2 separate regions of the Homo sapiens genome follow, and region 2 is linked to region 1. A link means that fine-mapping ties the variant in region 1 to the expression of a gene that starts in the linked region. Tissue or cell type: whole blood. Region 1 holds a variant in brackets; the other region holds the start of a gene. All regions are shown on one strand. Distances are between the middles of the regions.

Evidence for each region. PIP is the estimated chance that this variant, and not a neighbour inherited with it, causes the effect.
Region 2: LRP6 starts here. The variant in region 1 is fine-mapped to the expression of LRP6 in whole blood (GTEx, PIP above 0.99).

What each region holds. Positions count from the first base shown.
Region 1 is chr12:12,318,217-12,320,974 of GRCh38, forward strand. No RefSeq gene overlaps it. Among named protein-coding and RNA genes, the nearest start is that of MANSC1, 31 kb to the right of the region's middle. The variant CTGAA/C (reference allele first, on the strand shown) is at 1,581.
Region 2 is chr12:12,265,728-12,268,485 of GRCh38, forward strand. It overlaps LRP6 (LDL receptor related protein 6), which reads right to left and starts at 1,317. Exons shown (of 23, transcript NM_002336.3): 1 at 954-1,317. The coding sequence starts at 1,008. RefSeq lists a silencer at 1,008-1,317 and enhancers at 1,324-1,960, 1,498-1,547.

The sequences.
Region 1 (2,758 bases):
TTATGCCACATTCTTCCATAGCACACTTCTAAAATACCTGTTTTATAGGGTTTAAACTATCTGCTTTATAGGGACCAAGTGTGGTGGCTCACGCCCGTAATCCCAGCACTTTGGGAGGCCGAGGCAGATGGATCACAAGGTCAGGTGTTCGAGACCAGCCTGGCCAAGATGGCAAAACCCCGTCTCTACTAAAAATACAAAAATTAGCCGGGGCCAGATGCAGTGGCTAACGCCTGTAATCTCAGCACTTTGGGAGGCCAAGGCAGGCGGATCGCTTGAGGCCAGTAGTTCAAGACCAGCCTGGCCAACACAGTGAAACCCAGTCTCTACTAAAAATACAAAAATAAGCCAGGCGTGGTGGCGTGAACCTGTAATTCTAGCTACTCGGGATCCTGAAGCACGAGAATCGCTAGAATCCAGGAGGCAGAGGTTGCAGTGAGCCAAGATTGCACCACTGCACTCCAGCCTGGGCGACAGAGCAAGACTCTATTTCAAAAAAAAAAAAAATCTGCTTTATAGGGTCCTTTTACAAACTATTAGGCCACTTATCCTCAAAACCAAACAATGCAATAGGGTAGACAGATAGGAACTCGCAGGCTGTTCACAAGGAAACTGAGGCCCTGAGAGGTTATGTGACTTGTCAGTCTTCCCACCTCCCTTTTGCCCATCTTATAATAGACTCATGTCTGGAACTCAATTGTCCTGATTGCTAGCTCGTTGTGCCCAGTGACTCAAGAGAGTGAAAATTGTTGGTTCAGCAGTCTATCTTCTAAATTTGCTTCTTCTAAAAGTATTTAAAAGGTATAAGAAATATAAATTACTCCCTAGGCTGCTAGGCAGGCACCTGGTTTTCTCCTGGGGTAGTCAGAACCCTCCTATCTTTAATTTTTCACGGATGAATATACCAACAGTGAACAATGGCCAGACCATGGGGAATAGAACTGAGTCTCACAAACTTTGTAGCAACCAGCTGGGGAAGCCAAACCACTTGGCTTCCAACTCAGCACCGACCAGAGAAAGCCAAAGATGCTCCCCAGACTAATCACCGAAGATGCCCTGCTTCATTTTTTTTTTTTTTTTTTTTTTGAGACAGAGTTTCGCTTTGTCACCCAGGCTGGAGTGCAGTGGTGCGATCTTGGCTCACTGCAACCTCTGCCTCCCAGATTAAAGCAATTCTCCTGCCTCAGCCTCCCTAGCAGCTGGGACTACAGGCACGCACCACCATGCCCGGCTTATTTATTTATTTATTTATATTTTTAGCAGAGACGAGGTTTCCCTATGTTGGCCAGGCTGGCCTTGAACTCCTGACCTTGTGAGCTTCCCACCTCAGCCTCCCAAATTGCTGGGATTACAGGCGTGAGCCACCGCACCCAGCCTGCCCTGCTTCTAAGCAGTCCATCTCCCACTTCCTCGTGCCAATAAGCTCCAATCCAGATAAACCTGAAGCCTTCCCTTTTTGTCACTGTAAATTCTCTCACTCCTCTGCCTGCTTTGACCTTCTGCCAAAGTGATGGAAGCTGACTCCCATAGCATAGCAAGCTCTGAGTAAATAGCCCCTGTACTCATTTATTTCCACACCA[CTGAA/C]TGAATAATGAAAGATGTTATAAAGCCAAATTATGAAAAGGGCATCAGTTATTAAACATTTGTAAAATGTTTTACAACCATCTTAGTATGCCTCATAAACACCTCGTGAAGTGCTGCCATCCCCGTTTCAGAGCTGAGAAAATTGAGAAGGAACCATGAGATTAAGTGACTTGCCCAGAGCTATGATGAGAACATGAGCCCCCCAGGGTTTGAGGTCTGTTGTTTATCCACTGAGCTTGAGCTGCGCTTTGGAATCATTACCATCTTAAAGCATTTTACCCTGTGTTGGGTGAATATTAAGAAGTAGATCACATTTCAGCCTGGCAGGCGCGAAAGTATTGTTTTTAGTTTGTTTTTCTAAATTTTAGTAGAGGACATATGGGCTCTATTAACTTTACTATGTAGCACAATTTGAAAGATAGTTTCTTTTCCAGCAAATTTTTCACCGTAATTTAACATTTTAAAATTCAGCACACACCGTCCTCCCTGGATACTTGTTTTTCTCAGAGTTGGGCCTTTTTCCTCTCCACTGCAGCTTGGAAGGTCGTAAATCCAGCCAGGGGGATTTTATTATGCCTGGGGACAGTTTTCAAAGTTAGGTATGAGTGGAAGGAAGGGAGGGCGGGTGCAACAGCGCTGGACAAAGTCCGTCTAATGCAAGACTTTCCTTTCTTTTTTTTTTGTTTTTAAAGATAAGAACTTTTTTGGCTTTCTCCCCGCAAAGCTTGCTGATGATGTTGACTGATGAGGACATGAAAAAAGCTGAGATTTGCAGAACATAACTGGAGCATAAGAACGCCTGTCTGGAAGGCAGGGGCTGCTGGGAAAGGATCTCTCTGGAGCTCCTTGCTGGCTGCAAAAATGCAGCTGTCCCTATTCCTCTCTACTCTGGGACATTTAAAAAGGAGGCTGTGTGGCAGTAGCATTTGGCTTGTGTGCCACTGTACCTGGTCAGCCTGGCATGGAATGCCTTAGTGGTTTGTTAGGGGTCACTGACTGAGGCTAAATAAATTTAGCACCATGTATACTTTCATTAAATATTAAACAATGAGGCCAAGCACGGTGGCTCATGCCTGTAATCCCAGCACTTTGGGAGGCTGAGGTGGGAGGATCGCTTGTGGCCAGGAGTTTGAGACCAGCCTGGGCGACATAGCGAAACCCTGTCTCTACAAAA
Region 2 (2,758 bases), 52 kb before region 1:
AGTTTGAGAAGAGCTGCCGACGGGCCAGTCAAAAATCTTTGTGAACTGTCACAAAAGTCACAGAGCATGTGTCAGCTTTGCAGTCCAATTCAAAACATCATAGTGCCATCGAATTCAAGCGATTCCCAGAGCAAATTATCTCGAACAGCCTATGCAATTTACCAAAGTGCCAAGCAGTCCCCAGGGGTGCAGAGCAAATTATCATTTTGGTCCCAGGACCGGCTCCTCTTCACACGAGGATGAATTTCCCTACTTAGTGCCAACTGTACACTTGCATACTCCGAAAATAGGGGCAAGCCGTGAATACCAGAGGTTACAAGGGCAATGTTTTATTTTATTATGGGCTGAAGCTCAGAAGGCTCCCAATGCTGAAACGCTCGACCTATAACCCCGGAGTCACTTTCCAACTGCGCTCTCACCCAGGGTCATTATATCCCAAACGGAAGCCAATCATTACCTGTAACAAGGCCTGGAAAAAATAGCAAGAGGGCTTTAAAAGTTCACCTAAGAAACACCGAAACGGGGTGGGGAGTGGGTGGCGGGGCTTCGATGGATAAGGCCAACCTTAAAGCATCTCGGACTCAAACATTTTAAAAGCCAAAATACGTACAAAGACCCTTTTCCCTGGAAGACCCCAGGCAGAGAGAGGCACACAGACACTCAGTCATCCCGACAGCATGGGGTGCCAAGGGTTCCCTAAGACCAGCAGCCGGGATCGAAGCTCCGATGTGTCCGGGGAAGGTCTGGGAAGCCAGGCCAGGTCCGCATTGTGGCCGGGCGGTGCACGCAGCCCCTGCTCCCGGGCCCCTTTCTCTCCCCCTCCCCACGACCAGGCCTCTCCCCGCTCCTCTCCCCTTCTCCCTTCCTCCGTCCCTCCCCTCCCCCTAGACACATACAACAAGGCCACCTCCCCCCGAACCCCACCAACTTTCCAGTGCCCCCACTCTTCCCACCTCTCAGGAGCACACAGAAGCTGCAGGCCAGGAGGCTCCTCAGGACGGCCCCCATCTTCCCTTCTCGCGTTCTCTTCTCTCACCGGCGAGGGGTGGCCAGAAGTGGGGGAGGCGAGGAGCCGGGGCGGCCGCCGCAGCGGCAGGGCTGCACGCTCATACTTCCCAGCTTCCCAGCGAGAGAAGAAAGAAAGGGGCACGTCAAGGTTCCGCGCGCGCCGCCGCCGCCCTCTCTACCGCGCCGCTCGGCCCCGGGCTCGCGCGACGCCAGCGTCTGCTTCCATCCCGCCGCCTCCTCCCCCGGCGCCCCGCTTCCCCCGCGCAGCTCCTCATTCAGCCTCTGCCTCGCGCAGCGGCGCAGGGATACGGTCGGCACCGCCTCCTAGGGTCGCCGCGACCGTGTCCCTGCGCGCAACGAGCCCCTTCTCCCGGTACTGCCTCCTGTACGGCCAGGGAAGGGAGTCGGCAACCGCACGCACAGCCTCTGCCTGAGACCCTGGGAGAGGTTCTGGGCTAGCAGAGGCGAACTGGGAGGGAAAGCCTCCTCCCGGTGGCGCATTCCAGCGGGATTCTTTCCCGGACCGGCCGCTTCGGCCCTCCCCGCGGAGGGCGTGAGGCGGCGTTGAACAACATTGGAGCCGGCGTGGTCGGGACTACTTTCTGCGGCTCGGCCGGGCAGCCGTCTGCCCCGCTCTTTGTGCGGCCGCCGCCGGCAGGGCCAGGTGGGGCTCCGGTCTCGCGCCCCCAGCCACCTGAGACTGCCCAGCCGCGGTGCACGCGCGGGGAGCCACGGCGGATCCCGTTGCGGGGTGATGAGCTCCGTCTTCGGGGTTGGAAATCGGTTTCAGCATCCTTTTTTTGGGAGGGCGGAATTTTTGAACGCTGTTTACACCGGCTTTCAGCGTGGATCTGGTGAACGATATTAAAACGCCAATTCAAAACTGAGATTGTCATTTTTCTCCCGCCTTCCCAGAAATACAAACTGCCCCCAGAATTAAGCCCGACCAGCTAAAGATTTCTAAACTGGCAGATAAAATTCCAAGATAAATGCCTCAAAACCTAAGAGCAAAGGGACAATTGGACAAGACTATTTAGGATTTTACAAGTTGCATATAATAACGAATGTTTGGCATGCTTCGATTATCAATTCTCAGCTTGAGAAGGAAAAGATTCCCTAGAATCTCAGACTGTGCACAGCCTCTGCTACTCCCAGTGCATTGGGCATTCAGGAGTAATGGCCCAGACGCCCCCTGAAATCACCTGCCAGGCTTTCGTCTGGGCAGAGGCGCTCCAACAGTTAACCCTAATGGAGCCATCAGATGCATCCTGCCCAGCTGTCACACGCCCTTACCTGGAGGCAGATGGGCAAGAAAGTGGAGCTGCTACCACAATGTTAACAAGTACCTCAGTGACATTGGAGTTCACTAGTGCTTGAACACAAGTTATCATATTTGACACTCAAAACTACCCTGGGGAAAGGCAGGTTTTGTTACTTATTCTTTATTGCACAGAGGAGCAAAATGAGAACCTGAGAGGTTAATGACTTACCCAGGGCCACTCAAGTAATGAATAGCAGTACCTCAGCCCAATCCAGGTCTCTGACTTAAGCCACTCCGCTCCTTCCAAGAAATGCGCGCTGAACCAAAGGTGCTGCAGGTTTGTAAGTAGATGGACAGCAGAAACAGCCAAATCACTTTCTCCCAAATTCACCTGAGGTCTAGTCACCGTTTATTTAAATGACCTGCTTCTAAGAACCAAGTGAGTTTTGTATTCTGGCTTCCTCAAAGCAGGAAACTGGGCCGGGGGCG